Homo sapiens: one gene and its partner. The protein of the gene in region 2 binds, or shares a complex with, the protein of the main gene of each other region. Each region holds a gene or a part of one and is shown on either strand. Other genes may lie near its edges. A codon is read from its position in the direction of its gene.

What was found.
Region 1: the proteins of USP15 (region 2) and SART3 are in contact, whole or in part, in a crystal structure (PDB 5JJW), measured with the Homo sapiens proteins. Residues at the interface, in NP_001239007.1 of Homo sapiens: Ser23 (codon at 2,923), Leu24 (codon at 2,920), Asp48, Trp50, Gly121, Met122, Phe123, Val124, Lys125, His126, Lys128; in NP_055521.1 of Homo sapiens: Ser438, Ser439, Lys440, Glu443, Gln490, Arg493, Glu494, Trp496, Asp497, Met500, Thr501, Ala505, Trp511, Tyr514, Arg533, Cys537.

What each region holds. Positions count from the first base shown.
Region 1 is NC_000012.12:108,553,710-108,566,465, forward strand, and holds the start of SART3 (spliceosome associated factor 3, U4/U6 recycling protein), read right to left. Parts: upstream 7,465-12,756; 5' UTR 7,446-7,464; coding exon 7,134-7,445; intron 1-7,133. Other genes in the region: iron-sulfur cluster assembly enzyme ISCU isoform 2 precursor, read left to right, coding at 8,914-9,027, 10,570-10,683, 11,612-11,722. UniProt on the Homo sapiens protein: U6 snRNP-binding protein that functions as a recycling factor of the splicing machinery. Promotes the initial reassembly of U4 and U6 snRNPs following their ejection from the spliceosome during its maturation.
Region 2 is NC_000012.12:62,250,755-62,263,403, reverse strand, and holds the start of USP15 (ubiquitin carboxyl-terminal hydrolase 15), read right to left. Parts: upstream 3,001-12,649; 5' UTR 2,990-3,000; coding exon 2,901-2,989; intron 1-2,900. Other genes in the region: TAFA2 (chemokine-like protein TAFA-2), read left to right, coding at 3,860-3,925, 4,562-4,641. UniProt on the Homo sapiens protein: Hydrolase that removes conjugated ubiquitin from target proteins and regulates various pathways such as the TGF-beta receptor signaling, NF-kappa-B and RNF41/NRDP1-PRKN pathways.

The DNA of each region.
Region 1 (12,756 bases), about 46 Mb from region 2:
ATGAAGTAGCCAGTGAACCTTTAAATGGAGTGGGGACAAGGACCAACCATTCAGAGAATACAAATATGAAGGATTACGGGGTTTTGTTCAAGTGTTTAGATTTTAAACAAGAACTCATTATCTTTCTCTACTAATTATAATAGTAAAACCCTTCCATGGCTTCCCAGTATCCTAGGAACAATTTGCAAATCCCTGCCTCATGTGCAATCCCAGCATGCTGGGCTCATCTCTCCAGCTACATCTCAAACCACCGGCCTCTCAACATGGCAGCCAGCTTCGTGTAACTCAAACATTCCAACGTCTCTCCAACCTCAGGGCTAGGCACCTGCTGCTCCTTCAGCCCAGAAGGATCTCTCACCTTCTCTCTGCCTAGCCACCCCTTTTCATACTTCAGGTATAAACTTCACTTCCTCAGAGGGCGCCCCCGGCCCCCCTCCTATGCCACTCTTTCTTAAGTAGCCCCCTATATGCTGCAAGCTGTTTTCCATCTCATCATCGTGTTTATTTCCATCATGACCTAAAGGCTTCATGGGATAAGTACCTTGTATGTCTTATCCTTGACTTGGTTAGATTCTTTACCTACCTGGCACACAGAATTCAATAAATTACATGTCAATCTCACTCAAGAGCATTAATACAAAAATCCTAAATAAAATATTAAAAAATCAGAAATGTATAAAGAGAACAATACATAATGATCAATTTGGGTCTATCCCAGGAATGCAAGGGTGTTTTTACACTACAAAATCATCCAGTATAATTTTTCCACCATCAGATTTGAGGGAAAAAAACATGATTACCTCAATGAAGAAATAGCATTTGATTAAAACATCCATTCATGAGTCAAAATTAAGAATTAGCAAACTAGGAATAGAAAGGCACTTCCTTAACCTGATTTTTAAAATCTGCAATAAATATATTTTAATAACATATTTATATATTTATTATATTGTTTATTATATATTTATATATTTATATTTAGTAAATTTAATAATACATTAAAATTCCTTTTAAAAAACACAAAAAACTTCCCAGTATTGCCTTCTATTTAACCCTGTACTGGAGGTCTGGGGTTTTAACAATGAGACAAGGAAAAGAAACAGATATAGAGAAAAGAATGAGAACTGTTAATTATGGTCAGATGATATCAATGTATAGTAAACCAAAACTCATCTACAAACAAATCATTTGGAAATAATAAACAAGATTAGCAAAGTGACAAGCAATAAGAGCAATGTATAAAAATCAATTATATACAAAGAGACAAATACTGTATGATTCCACTTATATGAAGTATCTAGTCAAATTCATAGAGACAGAAAACTACAATGGTAGTTATCAGGGGATTGGGAAGGAAGGAGAAGGAGAGCTGTTTAATTGGTAGAGTTGTATATATGCAAATGAAAACTTTGGAGATCTGCTTCACAACAATGTGACTATACTTAACACTACTGAACCATACACTTAAGAATAAGATAGCAAAGTTTACGTTATATGTTTTTTACAATAAAAAAATTACATTTCTATAAACCAGCAAGCTTTAAAATGTAATTTTAAATAGGATAGCATAAACATCAAGCACTATAAAGTACCTAGAAATACATCTAACAAAAGATGTGTGAGACCTCTATGGCAAAATGTTTTTAAACTTGATTGAAAGATATTAAAGACTTGGCCGGGGGCGGTGGCTCACACCTGTAATCCCAGCACTGTGGGAGGCCGAGGCAGGCAGATCACTTGAGTCCAGGAATTCAAGACCAGCCTGGGCAACAGGGCAAAACCCCGTCTCTACAAAAACTGTAAAAATTAGCTGAGTCTGGTGGCACATGCCTGTGGTCCCAGCTACTCGAAAGGCTGAGGTGAAAGGATCGCTTCAGCCCAGCAGGCGGAGGTTGCAGTGTGCTGAGATCATGCCACTGTACTCCAGCCTGGGAAACAGAGCAGGACCATGTCTCAAAAATAGAAAGAATATTCAATACCTAGACGAATGGAGTTATATGCATGTTCTGGGTTAGAATAATCATTATGGCAAAGACGTCAATTCTCCCCTAAATAATCCATAAATTCAATGCAATTCAAATAAAAAAACCAACAGGGTTTTTCACAGACCTTGACAAAATAATTCTAAAATTTATATGAAAGAGCCAAAACACCCTGCAAGGAAAGAAAAAAAGCAGGTAGGAGGATTTGTCTTACCAGATAGCAAGCCTTAGCAATAAGTTAATCAGTGGAATTGGCACAGGATAGACAAACTGAAGAGAGAGCCCAAAACAGACCCATGCAGTTGAAAAACACTATGGCTCAGGTGGCACTTGCTGTTTCAGCTAAAATAAATTCACAACCTATGACTATGACCCCCAGGTTGAAAAACAGTGACTTTGAGAAACTCTCTTTTTTTTTTTTTGAGTCAGGGTCTCACTCTTACCCAGGCTGGAGTGCCGTGGCAGTCACAAATCACTGCAGCCTCAAATTCCCAGGCTCAAGTGATCCTCCCGCCTCAGCCTCTTGAGTAGCTGCTACTACAAGCTCATGCCACCACACATAGCTAAATGTTTTAAATTTATTTTTTGTAAACACAGGGTCTCACCATCTTGCCCAGTCTGGTCTCAAACTCCTGGGCTCAAGGGATCATCCTGCCTCAGCCTCCCAAAATGCTAGGACTACAGGTGTGAGCCACTGCATCTGGTGAGAAACTCTTGTACATGATGTGAACTGCTTTGTATTTATCAAATTACATGCCAAAAGATAATAATCAATTACAGATAAGAACATGATCTCTAAGTTTTAAATCTTAAGACTTTTAGCAATGTTCTCCTGCTTATGATTCATAAAACCTGAGAAGCTGAACTCATCCGATGATCACACGATAGGCTGAAAAGCACTGGACCAGATCAGGACACAAGTGTTCTAATCCCCACTTGTTCTGTTTCCTCATCTGTACCATGAAAGAGCTGGGCTAAAGCTCTGGTTCTTAAATGGGCTATCATGACACACTGATGTTTCAAAATCACCTATCAAGTGTGTCACACAAAGTAACCGCAGTTTGGGATGTTTGAGAAGTGAAGTTTGAGAAGGATACACTTTCTTCATTAAAGAACATTCAAGGCTCTCCCCACCACATCACCAGTCTGAACTCAATAGAGTGTGCTTGCGGAGCACAAACAGGAGTGGGAGAGCACTTGCTAGTCAGTGTCACGAATATCTATGCATGCAAGTGCCCCTCACATGAACACCATGTGTGGATCAGCAGAAGAAAAAGGTATAAAAGTCGCTAAAGTCAAGAAGCTGACTTTTAAGGTGTGGCTTTTGGTGTAAACTTCTGATTTTTAGGGTAAAATGATGAAGATACTATATGTGGACAAGTACTCTGAAAGTACATATATTAAATACATACTGAAATGCACTTAAAAGAGCTATTTCCACATAGTTCAATCTATACTGATAAATGAGTACATATGCTGGTCTATTCTGGTCTTAGAACATCATTAATGACATAGTTTTTTTTTTTTTTTTTTTTTTTTTGAGGTGGAATCTTGCTCTGTCACCCAGGCTGGAGTGCAGTGGTGTGATCTCAGTTCACTGCAACCTCTGCCTCCCGGGTTCAGGCGATTCTCCTGCCTCAGCCTCCCGAGTAGCTGGGATTAACAACATAGATGCTTTAAAGGAAACTTAACCAATCACAAAATGATCTGCTAACTGATTTAACTCCCTAGCAATGTGAAAAATGTGTTATACCTAGCTGTACTAGAATGGGGGAGAAATAATAGAGAGGACTGATGGAAAGAAAACAACTGGTGCAATCAAAGGCAGGGAAGGGAGAATGGAGCAGCACCTATTATGCGCCAAACTGTGCCAGGCGCTTTACGCACATTGTGCCATGCCCCACAACAGTCCCATGAGGAAAGCACTATTACAACCTTCATTTTACTAACTGGGACACCCAAGACTCTGCGAGCTGAAATAACTTGTACAAGGCCTTTCCACTACTCAATGGAAGGCTTGGGTTCAGGGTTGCAAAGCCATAGTCTCCGTACTGCTGCACTGACAAATCTGCCGAAGCCACCATGAAGTGCCACTTTTAATTTCAGCGCACAAACACATATAATGGAAAATATTTGCTTTTGTTAGACAGATACCACAGCAAACTGCCAGCTACCATAAAATATAATCAAGGCCACGTGCAGTAGCTTGCGCCTGTGATCCGAGCACTTTGGGAGGCTGAGGCAGGAGCATCACTTCAGCTCAGGAATTCAGCACCTGCCTGGGCAACATAGTAAGAACCCATCTCTACAAAAAAAAAATATTTTTAATTAGCCAGGCATGGGGGTGCATGCCTGTAGTCCGAGATACTTTGGAGGATGAGCTGGGAGGATCACTTGAGCCTGGGAGGTCCTAGCTGCAGTGAGCCATGATCACACCACTACTCCAGCATGGGCAAGAGTGAGATGCTCTCAAAAAAAAAAATTAATAAACACTGAGGGATGAGAACCAGAACTCTCAAATATGGCAAGGCCAAGTTTCTCACAGACCTATTTGGAAGCAATTCATCATTATGCTCCGCCATAAAAGCAGTTACAGCAGGAAGAAGCAGCTGTGGGATCAGGATGAGGTGGGTGGGAGGCTTGGAGAAACTGGACAAGTCCATTTCTAGACCACAGGACAAAGAGGATAAGGCCAGAGGGTCTTCAGTTCATCACTTGCCAGGTCCTATCCTGTGTGGTCCATTCTAAACTCCACCCCATCCTTGGTGATCTGTGGCAGGACAGGCAACTGCAGAGTACTAGTGGCCAGAGACCTCTGCTCTCCCCTTTCTTGCTCTTTAGCAAGCTGTGTACCCTCACCAAGGACTTAACCTCTCTGGTCCCAAACCTCTCTTTCCCCACCTCACAGAATAGGCTCATCGAAAGGCCCAGGACTAGCAGTCTGAAGAAATGACATCAACAAGGGCAGGGACACAGTCAATCTGGTACCCAGTGTCACGCTGTGTTTGCTGAATGAGTAAGACTAAATTAGCTTCAGCACACTTATTTATAAAAAGTAGAGGGCAGGCGCGGTGGCTCACGCCTGTAATCCCAGCACTTTGGGAGGCCGAGGCGGGCGGATCACGAGGTCAGGAGATCGAGACCATCCTGGCTAAAACGGTGAAACCCCATCTCTACTAAAAATAGTAAAAATTAGCCGGACTTGGTGGCGGGCGCCTGTAGTCCCAGCTACTCGGGGGGCTGAGGCAGGAGAATGGCATGAACCCGGGAGGCGGAGCTTGCAGTGAGCCGAGATCGTGCCACTGCACTCCAGCCTGGGCCACAGAGCAAGACTCCGTCTCAAAAAAGAAAAAAAAAAAAAAAAAAAAAAGTAGAAATGCTAACCACCTGCCAACCCCAACAGGTTCCTCTGACAATCAGATGTAATGGGTGGGACAAGCTATACCAATGGATGACATCACTATCTCATAACAAAAATATCAGTGCCAGAGAGAGTATTATAAGGAAACTGACACTCAGTAAGGTTTAATGAGTAAACTAGATTAGCAACTTCACATTCACTGAGTGATTTCACATCCAGTGTGGCATCTAGTCCACATTTTAAGTGTAAATCCCACTATGAATAACTTAAAGGAAATCATTTCATCATTTGTTCTGAACCTCTGTTTCTTCATCTGTAAAAAGAGAATGCGGGCCGGGCGTAGCGGCTCACACCTGTAATCTCAGCACTACGGGAGGCCAAGGTGGGTGGATCACCTGAGGTCAGGAATTCAAGAGCAGCCTGACCAACATGGTGAAACCCCGTCTCTACTAAAAATACAGAAATCAGCCGGGCGCAATGGTGCGTGCCTGGATCCCAGCTACTGGGGAGGCTGAGGCAGGAGAATCGCTTGAACCAGGGCGGCAGAGGTTGCAGTGACACGAGATGGTGCCATTGCACTCCAGTCTGGGTGACAGGGCGAGACTCTGTCTCAAAAAAAAAAAAAAAAAAAAAAAGAGAGAATGTGCTCCATCTCTTCTGTTTGCCCCCTCCAAAAAACACCCTACCCTCTCCTCCCTGCCCTGTGTCCCCGAGTATAGACCTCATGCACAGGTTTCCTGGCTCTCCAGCTTCCAGATGGGTCTGCCCAGCAGGAGGCACCAGCAGAAGTTTGGTGGGAGGAAGAAAGAGAGGTCAGGGTATTTCTTCCCCCACCTCAATCCTTGACAGGAAACTGGGGCTGCTTCCCTTGAACAAAGTTATCAGCAGGTCTCAGGTGCCCTCTCCACACAATTCAGATCACACCCTTCACCCCTTCCGGCCCAAAGATGGACACCAGGTTCTGGAGTTACCAGCTATGGGATACTAAACCTTCACTCCCGATTTCCCTACCCACACCTTTATTGAGTTTCTCTCAGATCATCCTAATTTAAATGTGCCACCTATTTCCTGCTGAGATCCTGGATTATACAGTAGATATCACCACCTCATAAGGTTACAAGTGAGAGACCATGTTATGACTAGATGCTAGGCACTGAGCTATAGTTACTGTTACAACAATTATATTATGCAGAAATTGTTGCTCCCAATCTGCAGATAAGGAAGTCGAGAGGGTGAGAGAAATTAAGAAATTCTTACAAGCACATACAAGAGTTGAACAGCTAGAACTGAGGCCTTAACCTCCAGAACCAGAAACCTTTCCATTTCTATTATCACCATCGCGGTCAATATTTTTCTTACCACAAGTTTCATCATCGCCGTCATTCCTACATAACAAAATAACACTCTCTTGCGAATGAGTTTATTTCTACTGTTGGACGTGTGGTTAAGAGTGGGAGTTCTGGAATGGGATCAAAGTACAAGGCCTGACTTGCAGGAAGTGTTATCTTGAGCAAGAAACTTTCCTCCACGAGCCTCAGTTTCCTCCAGTAAAATGGGGATAGATAACAGGGCTTCCTTCACAGGGTCGTGGCGAGGATTCAATGAGATAACGTTTGCAAGGCAATGGGCAGGCAGTAAGCACTCAAATCCGACAGGAGCTACTGTCACGAAAAGCGGGTTTGCAGCCTTGGCGGCTTTATCGCCGCCGAGGACTAGGGAGGCGGGCCAGGACATGGGGACCCGAGGACCTGAAAGACTGGAAGATGCCCGCTGCCCACCCCCGGGCCCACCTGCTCCTCCAGTCTCTCAATCTCCAGCTGGTTTTTCTCCTCCTCTTCGTCATATTCCCACTCGTACTCCCCGGGGGAGCTCTCCGCGGAGGAAGCCATGGCGTACTCATCCCCATCGCTCTCGCTCACGCCTTCCTCCTGCTGATCCCACGCTGGCCCCATGGTCTTGTATGTCGCAGCGGCCACAGCCCGCGATAACACCTTCCTCCTTGTCCTAGCCGCCTTAACCTCATCCTCCTCTCCGTCAGCCTTGGGCCCAGCCTTGGACTCAGCCTCGGGTTCTGAAGCCGAGGTTTCGGCCGCAGTCGCCATCTTGCGCTTCTAATGACTCTCGGGTCTTCCCGCGGCCGCCGAAGACCCGCTGAGGCAGAAGCTGCCCGCGGCGCGCGCCTTATCAAAAACCCGTTTTCTTGCCATTGAAAGAGAAACTGGGAACTTAGATAACAGGAAAATCTCCACATACACTAAATTCACATTATTTTATACCCTGTAAAAGCTCCCACCAGATATAAAAACTCATTATAATGGCATGCGTTCCGTCACAACTTCGGACAGAAGTTGGGTCTTTGGGCAGGAAGTGGAAGCCATAGAGGAAGTCATGGAGCGAGAGTGATGTCTGTAGTGAAGAATTTGGCGCCATCTTGAGAAGGTCAAAGTGATTCTTCGATTAAATGCCTTACTTATCGCCTAGTGTGACCTGGCGCTTGGGTTTACTCTCCCCAGCAACTGCGCCTCAAACGCAAAGAAAACTGCAGGTCCTCGGGGAAGGATCGATTTCACCATTCAAGAGAAAAATCCATTTCCCAGATTCCTCCCCTTTATGTAAACGTCTGGTACCTAGTAGACGTTAAATACACGTGAGTTTTCCGGTTTTATAAGATCACATACTGCAAACCAACAGTAAATTACATTAATACGCATTTCTTTAGAAATTCTTAATTGCTAGGCACTGACATATAAATTGAGTTTGCTGTTGTTTTAGAGAGAAAAATAGACATATTCATTTTTTTTCAATCAGGACATGGTATTCGTTTCCTTCTTAAGCTTCCCATTTTTGAGGTAGGAAAGTATTGGTGTGTGTCTCTATCTCTACCTTGCTCCCTCATTAGCAGGCTTAATGGGCAGGAATTATGTCTGTTTTGCTTTCCGTTGGATCCCCGGGTCTAGTAGAGCGCCTTGACACATAGTAGGTACTCGACACAGATGCTGGCTTCATGATGAAGCAATTGTCCTCGAATTAATACAAAAGGGAAGATTCAGACTCAGCGAGCCGGTACCATTCGTCTAGGGACACACAGCCAGGAAGGAACCGAACCAGGATTCTAACCCAGGATTACCCAAGTTCGAATTCTAATTGAACATAAGTCCTTAGCGACCTTGGACGGACTTACTAAACTGCCCTGAATCTCGGCTTCCTTAGCTGCAAAATAGGGTTAGGAAAAGTGGACTCGGTGCTCCTCTGCGCCGCATTCCCGCAGCGGGATTTGTGAAAGCGAACTTGAGCCCCACACTGCAGAAGCCCTGAGGTCCTGTCTCAACCAGAATCCAGCACCCAGGACAAGCCCTCCAGCGACTTCAGACCTTCCCGCTCCCGACCCCGCCCGCCCCCGAGAGGCGTGGTCAAGGCGGGGCCAGAAGGCGGACGCGTGCACGGAGCGGTAAAGCGCAGGCGCAAAGCTTCGGTGACGTCAGAGAGGCGCGCTCCCAGCTCGGAGCCGACTCGCAGACGCGCCCCGCCCCTCGGCGTCGCTCTGGACTGGCGCAGGCGCAAGCCGGCAAGATGGCGGCGGCTGGGGCTTTCCGTCTGAGGCGGGCGGCATCGGCTCTGCTGCTGCGGAGCCCCCGCCTGCCCGCCCGGGAGCTGTCGGCCCCGGCCCGACTCTATCACAAGAAGGTAGGGACAAAAGAGGGACGCGCGGAATGCCGACTCAGCGGAGGCCTGGGCTGGAGGGGCGGCCGCGGGGTTCTGCGCAGCTAGGACTGGGAGCTGTCCCCTCCCACGTCTTTGCCCTGACTCGCTTTCCCTTGCTGCGCAGTGAGGCTCACTGCAACTGATAAACAACAGTTACCGCTCATCGGGCGGCGACTTCCAGGGGGCCCCGCCGCTGGCCGCGACTTCGTGCGTCCCAATTTTAAATTCGCCAACAGCCCAGGAGGCAGGGTCCTGTTGGGACTTGTCTTTCTGAGTCCAGGGACAGACACACCCCCGGAGCGGGCTCCGGCTTCAGCCACTCCGCTGCCCTGGCCAGATGACCTTGGGCTAGTCACTGCGCCTCTCTGAACCTGTTTCCCCAGGTGTAAATGGGGGGCTCTCAGCTGTCCCTTACAAAGGATACTGTGCGTGGAGTCCTGGCATGGTTCCTGGCACATAGGCCCCAGCACGAGGAGACCGTTTCTGTTACTGCTTTAGGAGTGCATAGGGGAGTCAGGCTTGTAACCAACATGCGTAATGTTTTTGTTTTGTTTGGGGGGTTTTTTGGCGGGGAAGGAGGGATAGATTCATAGTCTGCAGCCCCTTGCTGTCTGGTGGCACAAAGTCCCCCAGACGTGAGACTCCCACTCGAGAAACAACTAAAGAATGCCATAAATCAACGTGGCACAAAAGGCCCCTACATTAGATACTATCCTGAGGTCCCTTTTACTTGGAGTCAAAATCCTTAGTCAGATGGGGGGAAAAGGGGACTGGAAGATCGGCGTGCTTACTACTAACCAGTAACCAAACCTCAAGGTTATTAAGGCCTTCTGTGTGCCAGTTCGAATGGATGTTTATTGTGATCTGGCTTCTGCCCTTTCTCCAAGGGCTTCTTCACTCCTCCCCCTCCCGGGGGTGTGTTTTGTTGAGGGTACACCCTGAAGAAACTTGGACTAGCAGCCTTTCAGCAGCCAGGGTGCGCTGCTGCACCAGGGTGATGACAGGCTGTGAAATACGGTAATGGCACTGTTTTTATTTTAAAAGACACATAAACGTACACATTCCATAGCATTGTTCCCTGTGTAACAGTCACCTTAAGGCTTCTAAGAAAGCTTTCCCTCCCTGGGCCATGGTTATTTTTAGAATTTTTAAATAGTAATCATCCTTTGAGGATGGATTTTATTTGAAAATAACAAAACTGCTGTTTGAGCCCAAGTCTGGTGATGTAGGTGGGTGAAAGTCAAGTATTTTTGTAAAAATCCTATGGAACTAAGACATGATTTCACTGATTTTTTTTTCTTCTAGGTATCTCAAATCTGTGAAGTATTGTAGAGGAGACACAAAAGGAATTGGGGGTCACAAATGGTTCTCATTGACATGAGTGTAGACCTTTCTACTCAGGTGAAATTTGGTATTTAGTGATTGCCTGCCAGGTTCAAGATGCTGACCGAGGAGCTTACCATCAAACCAGAGACCAGTACCAATAGAGAGTGAACATGATTTATCTTAACCCTCTCATTTTAGGTTGTTGATCATTATGAAAATCCTAGAAACGTGGGGTCCCTTGACAAGACATCTAAAAATGTTGGAACTGGACTGGTGGGGGCTCCAGCATGTGGTGACGTAATGAAATTACAGGTATGGCTAGTCTTTTTTAATAGTGATAACAATAATCCCTTTAAGTTTACAAAGCACTTGCGCATTTCACTTGGTCTCCATCTTTATTCCTGTGAGATCTCCAAGCATTTCACTTGGTCTCCATTCCTGTGAGATGGGATGAGTCCATGTTAGATATGACTGGAGCAGGGCCTCAATCGTAGCTCTCCTGCTAGGCTAGTGTACTATGCCAACTTTTTCCAAAATAGAAAAGTAATCTCATTTTTGTACTCACTGTATCAGTTTAAATTCTGACTTCAGCCAACTAAAGAGTTTTGTGAATTTTACTGATCAAAGGAAAATCCCAGTGAGCTAGCAGTCCCCAATGAAACAAGAAACACAGTAAATTAAACCTGTCCCCAGATTGGGGGAAACATGAAAATAGTGTCTAGTGCTTTGGGTAAACTGTAGTTGTAGCACCAATCTGCTGCTTCATGGTGAGTGGGCAGCTTGCCAGAGGTCTTCATACCTATCTTGGAATACAGAAACAAAACAGGAGGAAACCACTAAGTGTAATCTGCTGCCCAAGAAAAAAGTATTAACCAGAGACCTTTATTGTGGACTCTGTCAGTGTTTAAAGAGGCCAGATTGCCCCAGCAGCTGTGAGCAGACTTCCACAAATAGAAGTTCATAGCCAAAATGCAGGCCAGAGTCACAAAACAAAAGAATATTGGAGTGGAGGGACATATTTTTCAGCTGATCTTTGTCAGTTGGGCCTGGATAGTTGTCCCTGCATTTCACTTTTCATCACTGAGCTCTTTGAAACAAGGCAAAGTCAGTAATTAATGCCATCACTTAGTGTGGAAAGCAAGCCCAAAGCCCTTGGGGAAGGCCCTGGTGAACCTTCGTGAGTGCCAGGTTCCAGAGGGTGGTCCCAGGACTCACCACTTAACTCTTGTCTCTTTTCTAGATTCAAGTGGATGAAAAGGGGAAGATTGTGGATGCTAGGTTTAAAACATTTGGCTGTGGTTCCGCAATTGCCTCCAGCTCATTAGCCACTGAATGGGTGAAAGGAAAGACGGTAAGGTGGCTCACAAATCTAATGGGTCAAAAACAAGTAACCATGACTTTTTTTTAATATTCTAAATTTTTAAAATTTCTCCTATGCAGATGTTGATTATATTATCATTTCTTCAAATTGGGAATTATGGATCATTCTACTAGGTGTTGTTTGGGTTTTTTTCTTGTTGATCATTTTTATTTTTTTGTTTGTTTGGGTGTTAATTACATATAAAAAAGATCCTCACCTGTCCCTCTAACAAAATAGAATTTAAAAGAAATCTTTGGCTTTCTCTAAGGTTACCAGTGCTCTTATAATTTCTCAAGTCAGAGAGTTGTTATAAGGTAGTTATTTTCTTGTTTATTTCCTCTCATGTTTCAGGAAGGGTTCTAGGTGGCTTTCAAGAATTGGTGAAATAAACTAGCCTGTGTTAAAAGAGGGATTAAATAATCAAAAAGACAGCAAGGGTGGGGGCAAAGTGAACAACGAAATCAGAACAGTGATCCAGGTGGCTGATCGCAAGCCCTCTAAAGGCAGAGATAATAAAGAGCTAGAACTTCTTTTTCATCCCTTTGTCTCCCAAGTGTCTTTCCCTGGTAGCTGCAGAGGTCAAAGGTCCCAAACACAGTGAAGAGCTGGACTTTCTAAAATCCAGTTGCTGTCAAAACCTCTCAGAAAAGCCAACCAGCAAGGCACTCATCTTTGCTGCCCCAAGGGACCAGGTTCAGGGAGCTGAGTCACAGAGGAGCATGCTTGGAAGCTGGCCAGCTCCACAGCAGAGCAGTTTGCCAGGCCACGTGCCACCTGCTTCCTGTGGCTCACGGCCTTCTGGCTGGCAAGCCCCTGTGGGCCAGGAAGCTCAGACCTAACCTGCTGTGGCAGGAGGTAGCTCTGAAGTGATTTGTCAGGAACTGTCCTCAGGTGAAGGGAGAAATGAGACAAGGCACTTTTGCTCCCAGAACCTGGCCCTTAGGGGACTGTGAATTGTGATCAGAAAATGGGAGAGAGGACATTTCTTTAACCTTGAGATCTCCCATCTGAGTTTCAGGAGCAGA
Region 2 (12,649 bases):
AAGTGCTCAAAAGCTAGTAAATGAAATTTATTCACTGTGATGCATATGACTATAACTTCAGACATGTGTATTAAACTTTCAAGAATAAACTTATGGTAAACCCACCATTTTTTCTCAACAGCCCAATCAGTCTTTCCTAGACAGTTACATACATATGCCACGACAATATTCCACAGGGCAAATTTCAAATAACCTGATTCAAAGATTAAAAAAAGATATTAAAAGGAAAAACAACTTTCTAGTGAGTTCCAAAAACATAAACTAAATTATTACATATCACCACCAGTTCTGTACCTGTAAGTTCATCATCAAATTTATACTTATCAAATTATTCTCTTTAAAATTCTGAATCAAATTTTTGCTCTCTACTACTTTGTTTTTGGACAGGTTTCACTTGCTAATTTGCAAATAAACTGGCTCACAAATAAACCAAACTGGTTTCTGCAACTCCCAGTACCATCTTTCTCTTGCAGTTTTTTTCCTTTAAGAGAAAATTAACGTGAGGATAAACTTGCACAATCTGCTTTTATCTAAATATGTGGCCCTCAGTTTACTTTTATTTAAAATAAAAGCACTGAAATGACTTAAATTTATGAGCCTCTTGTATTTAGTCATGGTTCATACTTGTAATACTAGCATTTTGGGAGGCTGAGGTGGATCACTTGAAGCCAGGAGTTCAAGATCAGCATGGGCAATATAGTGAGACACTGTACCTATACAGCTATACACGCACACACACACGCACATATATAAAACAATTTACATTAATTTTGTAAAAAAGCAAAAATATACTTATTTGAAAATACCAAACTTCATAAAGTTAAACGCCCACAATGCACATATTGCTCCTATCATCCTGTAGTGTCAATGCTACCAATTACTCTATATACAAAAACGTGACATTAATGAGAGACAATAACACTTATATTTTAACTTATAGACTTACAGATTTCTATTTTAAGGAAATTCACTTTTTAAAATAAGGTGGTACTAGGTTGGGTGAATTAAGAATTTTTAAATGTTCTTTAACTTACAATAGCCAGCGGGGACTTATTTGTCATTACCACAAGCCAAGGTAAACATGGGTGTCCTAGGAAATGTCCAATTTCCCCACAGTAATAAACATCTAACATTATAATAAAAACAATAACTTTTTTTTTTCTTTTTTTGAGATGGAGTCTCACGTTGCCCAGGCTAGAGTGCAGTGGCCGGATCTCGGCTCACTGCAACCTCCGCTTCCTAGGCTCAGGCAATCCTCCCACCTCAGCCTCCTGAGTAGCTGGGACCACAGGCGTGCCACCATGCCCAGCTAATTTTTTTGTATTTTTGTAGAGACGGGGTTTCACCATGGTGCCCAGGCTGGTCTGGAACTCCTGAGTTCAAGTGATCCTCCCTCCTCGGCCTCCCAAAGTGCTGGGTTACAGGCGTGAACCACCCTGCCAGGCCAACAATAACTATTATTAAGTCACTTGAAGATTCTATTTTTTTGATATAATGAAACAAGTATGTATTTACATCCTTAGGGATTTCTATCATACAAACATAGTATATAGCCTACCAAAAAAGAAAAAAGAGACTAAGACTTAGATCAAGGTTAAATTAAGGTCCTAAGTCTGCCACCTATTAGCTTAACTGAAAATGATCCCAATATCACAGCCTTTTGTCAGGAGTAAAGAGCAGAGATAAGAGGATAACTAAAATTTGATATCTCATAAATATGAAATTCTTAAGATATTAAAACGAATCAAGATAAAATCCTTATAATAAAATTACTGTCCATTTTACAGCATGAAGATAATGAGGTGCAATGATTTAAATTAACTCTCCTCAAAGCCATACTGCAAGTTGAGTGGTGAAACTGTGACATAACTCAGGTCTAAATCTTACTGTTCCTTTCACTATGCCATACTGAAACACTCTATGAATTATATACTACTGTTATGGTAACAGTGGAAAGTGAAAATATGTTTTATTATAATGAAGAGGCACATTATGCTTCCCAAAAAATAAGGAATTTTAAATTATGTTACATATTCACATATTTAAGTTATTGTAGATGCCACTTGATATGGTCGACAAGTGTGAAAATGTCCACATACATCCTTCAGTATTTTAAATGTATAACCTTTGGTATTTTACAAGTTTGAATATTAGCAGTTAGTTAAGCCTCAAGTGGACTTATCTACTTTTTGCAGGCCTACATTATCTTTCAAACAGAAGGGAAGGGCTGCACGTCTAACAGAAACGCTGCCGGCTTCTATCAAGCCACCACTAAAGCACAAGACCACGTGGTCTCTCATAAGCCCAAGGTTCCCTACTCCTCTCCCTCCTTTGACAAGGAACTGGAAACTAGGGTTTCTTTCTCTTATGTGGAGCCCTGACATGCCACCTGTGTAGTACAGACCGCAAACATCCTGCAGCCTGCCTCCCGGAAGACCAAGAATCAGAATAAAAGGGAACTTGGACGCCGACAATTCTAGGAAAGGAAATGAACAGAGAAGTAAAGCCGGTGAGATCGTGATAAGCCGCGGCACCGGGACCTGTCAAAACGGCGTATATAAGACTCAAACCAAACCACTATAACCTATCATTCGGGAAGGCCTGAGGTGGGAGCGGCACTACGGAAGGAAGGAGGACGAAGAGAACCGCACGAGTCAGAACCGCCGCCGCCGCCGCTCCCCGGATACCTTTCAGCATGCCCTGGCAAGCCAAGAACCCTGACCCTCATCTAGAGTCCAACCTTTGCCCCAACATTTCAGAAGCGGCCAAAATCCCGCTGCCCCGGCGGCCGCCGCCGGACCTGCCCGCACCTGTCACTAGCGAAAGAACCAGCTCGCGGCTCCCGCCCACTTCTCCACTATCCTCGGGCAACCGCGGGCATCTCAACCCCTTTCTCTTACCAGGTGTCCCCTTTCCGGAGCGAGGTTTTGAGCAGCGTCGCGATGTCAGACCGCTGGGTGTCCAGATCCGCCGCTCCGCCTTCCGCCATCTTCTTCCACTAGCGGTAGGGGAGGTGGCAGCGACGGCGGCGGCACGCCCCAGAGCATTATGGGAATGGCGTCCCACGGCCCCTCCCAGTCGGCCGGTCGAAACCAAAAGACACCGGGAGCGGGGGTGCTCCTCGGGACAAGAGGAGGCCCCGGGGGCGCACTGGGTGCGCGGCCATGGTCTGCTGCCCCCCATCGGTCCCCGCCCGTCCAGCATCTTGCCTTGGCCTCCTCTGGCCCGGGACTGCCGGGTTTTAGCTTTCCTCGCCGCCGAGGGCTCTGGCTCTCTCTCGCTAGAGGGATGCCACCGCCCTGTCCTCCCGTCCTCAGCGTTGCCTTCCCCTCCCTCTTTCCCACTGACGCCTTGAAAACCCTTATTTGCGCATTCACTCACGCTTGAGGGTGAGGTAGGGTGGGGCGGTGGTGTGGGGGCGTGGGGACGGCTAAGATATGGCAGAAAATGTAGCAGCTCAGTGACTGGGCTTTTCGTTACGAGTGGGAGAACCCAAGCTCGGTGAATATGGGCACACACAAAAAACACTCCGAAACCGAACGCTTGGTCTCCATGCCCTTCCTGGGTTCCTTCCAGCGCTCTTACTCCCGTTGTAGGTGGGGACCCTTTATAGGCTCTTTGTGACGCCTCCCCAGGCACACCCAGACGACTAAGCTGCAGTGAAAAACATGTCCCAGTTCATCGGTGAACAGGGAGTAGAATATGGACAGTATTGAATAATGCCAGATACTAAAGGAAGAAAACGTGCGAGAAACCCTCTTGTTTATACAGGATAGTAACATTTTCTTAGCCCCATCTTCGTATGGTGCCGTACACCTGAAATGAAACTAGATATGTCTTTAATTTGAAGTCAACGATTATGTTACAAAATAGAAAATCGAGTCGCTTAAAAATCAAATGCCAAGGTCACACAGCAGGTGGAGAGGTGAGTGGAGAGGCTGGTTCAAGAGCCCACATGCTATACAGTATAGCACACTCACTGCCTCTCCTTCTGAAAGCCTGAACTAAAATGTAAACTCTTTAAGAGCTGGAACTGGGTTCATCTTTTGTTTTAGCCTTTGTACACCTGGTGGTTAGCACAGTACTGATGGACATGTAAAAATTACCTAAATATTTGTTTAGTAAATGAATTGTGGCAAAATTACTTAAGTATTCCCGAGCATGATGTCCAGGGGTGTGATTTTAACATACCATATTGATGTGAAAAGTCTAAAAGATGGGCCGGAATCCCCACATCATTTCTCGTTTGCCCATTTTAAACCCTAACTCATTTGGTGAGAATGCGATAAAGGTAGGTGTAGTTATGCTAGTAGGAAGTGCTGAATCCAAGTGAAAGTAGTGTATATTGGCATTATGATTTGTGTATATCAGTATTATGATTATGATTGCTTATTTCTGCGTAATAATACTATTTTGCATTATCATGCCAACCTTGAATTGAGAGTTTTAAAACAACTTTCAGTGACTGCTATTTCTGGCTTTTCTCCTGACAGGTTAAAAGATTAAGAGTTTCTCTAACCACGGCTACCCTCTAAAAGTCACATTTTCCCCCTTTTTCCAGTCACTCTCTGAAAGAGAACAAAGTAATTTTCTGAAGGGAAGCTGCAGAATATGGAAAACATATATTGGAGCTACATGGATGTAAGTTCAAACCTCACTTCAACCTTTAGCTGCAAAGTTCTTGCCCTTTAATTGAATCATAAAATTGAGTATAATAATACCTACCTTAAGGGATTTTTATGAAGATTAAATGAAACAATTTGTGTTTATTGCCTGGGACGTAATAGCCATTCAATAAACACTAGTATTGTTTATTGATGACAGGGTGAATTGTACAGTATGTGAATTATACCTCAATAAAGCTATTGAAAAAAGGTGTTAGGGGCTTTGAAGGCAAAACTGTGCTCTCCTTCATTGTATAAACATAACATAACCAAGTAGCAATAAATCATTTATACCCTAATGTCCACTTTCCCTTAAGAGAAAATGCATTTTTGAAGTGTTGACAGCTACAACCATACAATGAAGTAAAATAATATTTTCTTCACTTGCACCATGCTCAAGGCAGCAGGTTAACTGGATATAGACGTGTAAATTCAATGCCAATTTGAATTATACATCAGATTTATGGAGCCGTTTTGTAGACCTAAGTAACTGCCATCAGAGTCAGGAAAGAGATAAAATTATAGTATTTTATTTAGCAAGCACTTACAGAGTGCCTAGCATGGTTCTAAACACTTTAAAATACTAACTTAATTCTCACAGCAATCACATGATTTTGGTACTATTATTATTTCAAGTCTATAGATAAGGAATTGAGGCAAGTAAGTGGCAGAACCTAAATTGAAACCAGGCAGTCTGGCTGCAGAATCTGGAAAGTTTGGGTAAACTTCAATTTTTCTATTGACCTTTATTATTTTGTTTACAGCAATCAACGTTTTAGTGATCTCAGTTGATCAGTTTATGGAAATTCTGCTTATTTTACTGGTGCTTCTCTCAATTATGAAGAGAAATAAGATATTGTTCATAAATTGGTTAAAGTCCACATCCCTACTGAATAATTAAGTAGATAAATTGATGAGAAAAGCTACTTCACCTTAATCACCAATAATTGAATATAAATCAGGGATTATATCTGCTTATTTAGAATGAATGTCTTCACTGATGCATTCCTTAGTTAACTTTTGATGAATGTACCAGTTTGCTTGGTGATTGTTATTGCCTTCTCAGACTCTCTGTACCTTTTTTGTCAATTTAAAACGTAACCTAGAGAGCTGAGTATGCTGAGTACTTAGGCTAGATATGAACAAGCTGGACCTCTTAAAGTCACAGTTGGTTGTGAAATTAGAGATTCTCTAGGAAGGATTCCTTTACCCTCTAGTAATTCCAAACCTCTCTGCTTACTGATATTTAAACAATTCCTTTAAGAGAGGTTCTTTTACTCAACAATTAAGAGATGGGACTTCAAATGTAAATACTCCAGGAGAGAGTTAGGTTTAAAACTAAAGTGTCAAAGAGAGCCAGTTTTCAGCCTGGGGTGAACCAGAGAAAAAAAGCACTGCATTTTGTAATACAGTTTAATGGAAGAAAGTACAAAGGAGAATTTCAAGATAAGTTTTGCCTATTTCATAATTTTTTGTGGGACTGGCTACATGAGCCTAAGGGAAAAATCTGCCTAAAATTTGAGTGGACTTAGCAAATCACACACACACACACACACACACACACACACACACACACATATATATGTATATATATATACACATGTACATACACACACACAGAATCAGCACATCCCATAAAAGAACAGTGTTTGATGACTGGCTGTCTTTATTTCTCAACTCTTCCTGTCTTTGATATTCAGGAACCACTGTCTCAGTTTTTCCTTCTCCTTGTCCTTCCTCTACAGTTATTCCCGCCCACGACCCTACCACCCCCTCATTCTTACTCACCTCTCTAAACCTTTCATTCTTTTATCTTATGTAATTGTATAATTCTCGTCTCTCTTTACCAGCTCTCAGAGCAGCTAAAAGGCAGTGGAAAGGCGGGGGAGTAGTGCAAACACCAAAATAGCATGTAGTAAAGTGCTTAATCTGTTAATGATATTTTGAAACTTGGGATATGAATAAAAATTGTAAGTGCCACGAGGCACTTTTGAAAGCTAAAAAAAATTACGGAGGGTCCTTATTTCAGACAAATGTTAGGTTCTGAAAAAGAGAATGAAAATATAGTAAGATGAAAACACTGCCTTTTACAAAGAGCCACTATACTTGGATTTTGACTCTGGCTCAGTGCCACTTGCTAGCTGGTAACCTTGGCTAAGTTATTTATTCTCTGTGACCATTCGTTTTCTTATTATAAAATAAAGTGATTAGATTTCGGAGGCTGAAACTCAAATACTTGCAGGGGTTAGATACAGCTAATGTAAATGGGTGAAGGAAATCTGTTGGGGATAATAAGGAGTTGTGGGACTGTTGAGCTGTCTATCCCAATTAAAGGTCTAAATTTAAAAAAATTAGAGCAAACAAAATTATATTTTCTGTCCTATAGGATCTAGAAAGTTTAATTTTAGCATGGGCATAAGGTCTACAAATTAATTAATCTAGGTTCCTACTTTATATCCTTTTTTTTTTTGGAGATGGAGTCTCACTCTGTTGCCCAGGCTGGAGTGCAATGGCATGATCTGGGCTCACTGCAACCTCTGCCTCCCGGGTTCAAGCGATTCTCCTGCCTCAGCTTCTTGAGTAGCTGGGATTACAGGCACCTGTCAACATGCCTGGCTAAATTTTGTATTTTTAGTAGAGACAGGGTTTCACCATGCTGGCCAGGCTGGTCTCAAACTCCCGACCTCTGGCGATCTGCCCGCCTCAGCCTCCCAAAGTGCTGGGATTAAAGGCATGAGCCACGTGCCTGGCCTATCCTCTTTTTAAGAAGTACATAAAGTGTACTAGAAAGCTGACTATACCATGAAATTTGATATCAGTCTGCCCTATAGTGGACTCTCACTACATGCTAATAGAACTAAATTGATTTGTTTTTATTTATTTGAGACAGAGTCTCACTCTCCAGTTGCCCAGACTGGAGTGCAGTGGTATGATCTCCGCTCACTGCAACCTTCGCCTCTCAAGTTCAAGAGATTCTCGTGCCTCAGCCTCCTGAGTAGCTGGGATTACATGCATGTGCCACCATGCCCAGCCTAATTTTTGTATTTTTAGTAGAGATGGGGTTTCACCATGTTGGCCAGGCTGGTCTCGATCTCCTGACCTCAAGTGATCCACCTGCCTCAGCCTCCCAAAGTGCTGCGATTACAGGCATGAGCCACTGTGCCTGGCCAGAACTAAATTGATTTGAATTGATAAGCAAATCAAGTATCTAACAGGTCTATAATTATAATAAAAAAACCTTAATAGGCATAGTATATTCTGCAGGTCCTGAATATTTAAAAATTAAATGTACGTGTATGGTAGGAAACTTTCAAGAAAGTGTTAATTTATCCCATTCAACTAAGAGTGATATAGATAAAATCAAGGTTCATAGTAGGAAAAATCTGCCTACTTTATATTTTCTTGTTATTTACATTTATTGACAGATTTCAAGGTTGATAAAGAACCTCTACATGAAAATATTGAAATGTTTAAGCAGCCTCTGAAGTCTTTCTTAAGCCTCATAATAATGGATGGACTTTAGAAAGCTAAAAATCATTTCAAATATGCTGATCATTTTTAAATTTTTATACTCATTTAAAAATATGCTGATCTTTTGTTTTAAATGTCAAATTTAATTAAAATACGTTAATGTTATATACTTGATCCGTTTTACTTTAAATCTGTTTCATTCGAAAGTTTAAAAATAATTATTTTATGCTCATGGATCTTGGAAATCTATACTACCAAAGTGAAGTAGAGAGTTGTTCAATGGTCCAGTGATTCTGCAGCTATATAGATTCCAGAGAGATTAACTTTGTTTTCTCCCAAGAGAAGCTGAATTATTCAGACTTTCTGTTTGGACAACCCTTCACTTCATTTGGGCTGAGATGGCAAAAGGATTTAAATTGCTCACAAAGAGTCTTAGAACAATATAATAGCATGTCTTCAAGAATGTATCTATGTTTCAGGACTGATGGAAACATTAAATAGGTATTCTTTATAATGTGTTCCAGGTTTTGCTAAGCAACAGGACACTATAGACCACACAGTAGATTTAGGTCAAATTAGAAGATACCAACAATGAAGTAAAAAACAAGTCTAGTGATTTCATAAAAATATTTACCATTGATTTTTGTTTCTAGCCAGTATGCTTCTATCTAGGTCGTCTTGAACTATGTCAGTTCAAGAATTATTAGTGGCCCAAGGCTTCTGTGTAATACATTGGACATGATTTCTACAGCATGAGAAATTCATGAAATGTGCTGGATGTATAGTATACCTCTACAAATAATTTAATTTACTCAATGGGAATTTATTAAGGATATAGTGAAAATAGTATGCATTTTAGAGTCAAAAAGACCTATATTTGTATGCCCTACTCCGATACTTAACTAGTTCTGTGATACTGGAAACATTAGTTTTCTCATCTGTAAAATAGTGATACTAGACTTCTTTTATAGGATTCATTTAAAGGTGAATAAAATAATGAATGTGAAACTCATATTAGAGCTTAACATATAGTAGTAATGATTTATAAAATATTTGCCTCCCTTAGACCAGAGCAGCTACTAAATTTGATTTTAATAATAAGATAAACAAATTAATAAGATCACAAAGTTGTTATGTAATAACATAAACAGCTGTGTTAAAATTAGTAGTGACCCATATCAAAGAAACACAATTACAAAGAGATTAAGAAGGATAATATTTAAAGTGTAGCTTTACTCAGTCTTTTGTGTGAAGGTATTCTTAGGGATAAAACAATGTATTTGGAAGCTGTTGGAAGAATATGGTGCAAAGAATATTTTTAAATGCTTGTGAATGTTCTGTAACCACAAACATAGATACATAACAGATCAAAGACATATTTTAGACTGCCATGTGGACTTAAATCATGGAAGGCAGAAGAGTGGCTCCCCAAAGAGGACTATATCGTAATACCAGAACTTGTGAATATATTACTTTAAATGGCAAAAGGGACTTTACAGATGTGATTAAAATTAAGGACCTTGAAATGGGGGGATTTTCCTGAATAATTCAGTTGGGTCCAATCTAATCATATGAATCCTTAAAAGTAGGAGACACTTTCCTGGTTATGGCCAGAGAGTGATGTGACTATGGAAGAATGGCTTTGAAGATGGAATAAAGGGGCCATGAGCCAAGGAATGTGGAAGGCTTCTCGAATTTAGAAGGAACAAGGAAATGAATTCTCTGTTAAAGCCTCCAGAAAGGATCAGAGCCTTGCTAAAACCTTGATTTTTAGCACAGTAAGAATTGTGTCAGACTTTTACAGAAATGTAAGAGACAATACTTCTGTTGTCTCAGTCACTAAGTTTATGGTAATTTGTTATAGCAGTGATAAGTAGTAGAAGAGCCTACTTTAAGGAAGAAGAAATGTTAGAAAGTTTAGGACTAGGAAGTCTGATGAGAAAGTATGTGGATGGACCTATGGGACTCGGCACAAAGTGTAAAGATTTTTGCATTACAAGTGAACACCAACCATAAAGGATATATCACAAAAGAGGTACTGAATAAACAGAATGACTCCAATGGTTGGCATCAACAAGCTTCTATCCTCAAAGCTGGAACAATGGGCACAAGAAGGGTAGTCATCATGACTGTGGATGGCCCCACAGCATGAGCTCTCACTTACCAACAGTGATTTGGCTATTGCTGCTGCCAAATGTCCAACCTGTCAGGAACAGAGACCAATATTGAGCCCTTGATATAGAATCATCCATGGAGGAGAATCAAATGACAAGTTAATTACATGGATCCCTTCTATTATGTAAGGGGCAATGAATGATTCATCTTGATTAGAATTGACACATATTTCAGGTATGGATTTTCCTTTCCTGCCAATAGTGCTTCAGCTGCTTCCACCATACTTATGGAGTGTTTGATCTCATGACACAGGATCTTCCCAATATCACATCAAACAAAGGGATTCATTTTATTGCAAAAGAGATGTGGTAGTGAGCACGTGACCATGTGATTCACTGATTCTTTCACATAACACTTCACCCAGAACTGTAAACAATTGCCGGCCGGATAGAGCAACGGAATGGCCTGTTGAAGAATCAGCTTAAGCACCACCTTAGATACAATAATACCCTATGCAGTATACCCTCTGAATCAATGGCCAGCATATGTTGCTGTGTTCCCAGCAAATAGAATTTATGGATATGGGAATCAAATGTAGAAGTAGAGGTGGTCCTGTTTACCATCATTGTCAGTGACCCAATTGGGGATTTTGTGCTACTCATCTCCATAGCTCTGAGATTTGTAGGTTTAGAGGTATTGTTCCCAAAAGGTGAGCATTTCCACCAGGAGACACAGCAAGAGGCCCAGTGAACTTTAAACTATGGCTGTCACTGGGGCATTTCTGCCTTCTACTGCCAAAGGATCAGGCAACGAGAGCAGTCACCATCCTGGCAGGTTTATCATTCTAAATACTGGGAGGAGGTCAGGCTGCTCTTATACAGTGATGGCAAAAAGGAATGTATTTGGCATCTCTTGGTATGCCCTTGCACAACTTTGACAGTAAATTGACTAGTAAAGTATTGATGACCTGAGAAAGGTATGGTGACTCTCAAGGATGAGTGACTGGATCATCCCACCAGGTAAGCCAACAAGACCAGCAGAGGAGCTAGTCAAGGTGAGGAAACTCTAGAATGGTAGATCAGGAAGCATATATTGAGTATCACTTTTGGTCTTTGCAATGGAATCTATGTATCTCGCTAACTTTCTTCCCAAGTTCTGGAGCTGCTTCAAAAACTTTTGCAAAAATAAAGGTCTGAGTGGAGCATGGGGTGAATTGAATTGGATAATCTACTGTGCCATTAACATCATCCTTCATGACTAAAGAATTTATTCCTCTAGCTGCTGGGATTTCTACTGATCTCAGCTGTCAGTCTTCTTTGGGAATCACTCTCAATAGAAAAGAGGCACCCTGTGTAGTTCATGCTCTCTTCAGGGGGCAGCCAGTGTGCAATAACTAATTGATGTAGGGTTTTAAAGACTTGGCTTCATTTCCTCTATTGGAAACAACTGTGAGGAGCAATCTAGCTTCAGTGGGTTGGTTAAGTTCTTTTTATAAATTAATTACAGCCCACTTTCTTTCTCTGCTCAATCTTGTTTGCTTCCTTTCTTCCACAAGTGTTGATCCTGAGAGCACTTCTTTACAGGCTATTTTCCATCTCAGAGTCTGCTTTCAGGGCACTTGGGCCTGCACCACACCCTTGTTTTGGTCTTTACCCTGGCAGTGGCCAAAATTTACTTTTTCTTTGAGCTGGGGACATGTTGAGAAACAGTTTCATTTTTAAGCCTACAACTTTCAGTATTTCTAAACTCTCTATTTCCTCTCAATTCTGTTTGTAACCCAGGCAGTTCATTTTGAGCTCACCACTTTCTTATGCTTTTTCAAAGGCACCTGGCAGCAGCCTGCTCTTCAATATTCTTCTTTGAAATCACCTCATCCAAATTCACAAGTTTACTAGATCTGCATGTTCTGTATTCCATAGTATTGCAGGTGACAATTTTACCAAATGTTTTGCCACTGCATAATACTGTTGTCATTATTCCAGCCTCCTATAACAATTACATGACTACCTGCTGCCCATTCCCAAAGCCAGTGCCACATATTTTGGGTTTTAGTTATGGCAGCACTGTACTTTATACATCAAATTCTGAATCAGCCCAATTTTTCTGACTTTCAAAACACCCAAAGTCCTAGTGCCATACAACAATATACGCATATTTCCTACTCATGCATTTTTGGGTTAGCTGGAGATTGGCTGGTCTTGGCGAGACTCAGCTGCTCTCTGAGGATTAGGTCAGGTCCTGGTCTGTTCCACATATCTCTCATCCTCTTTAAACCAGAGGCTAGCTGAGTCATGTTCTCGTTGCAAAAAGAGATCAAGAGACAAGCCTAACTATGCAAGACCTCAATTAATATCAGGGAAGTACATTCCTTCTGTAGGAGAGGGGAAGGGAGTAATCAT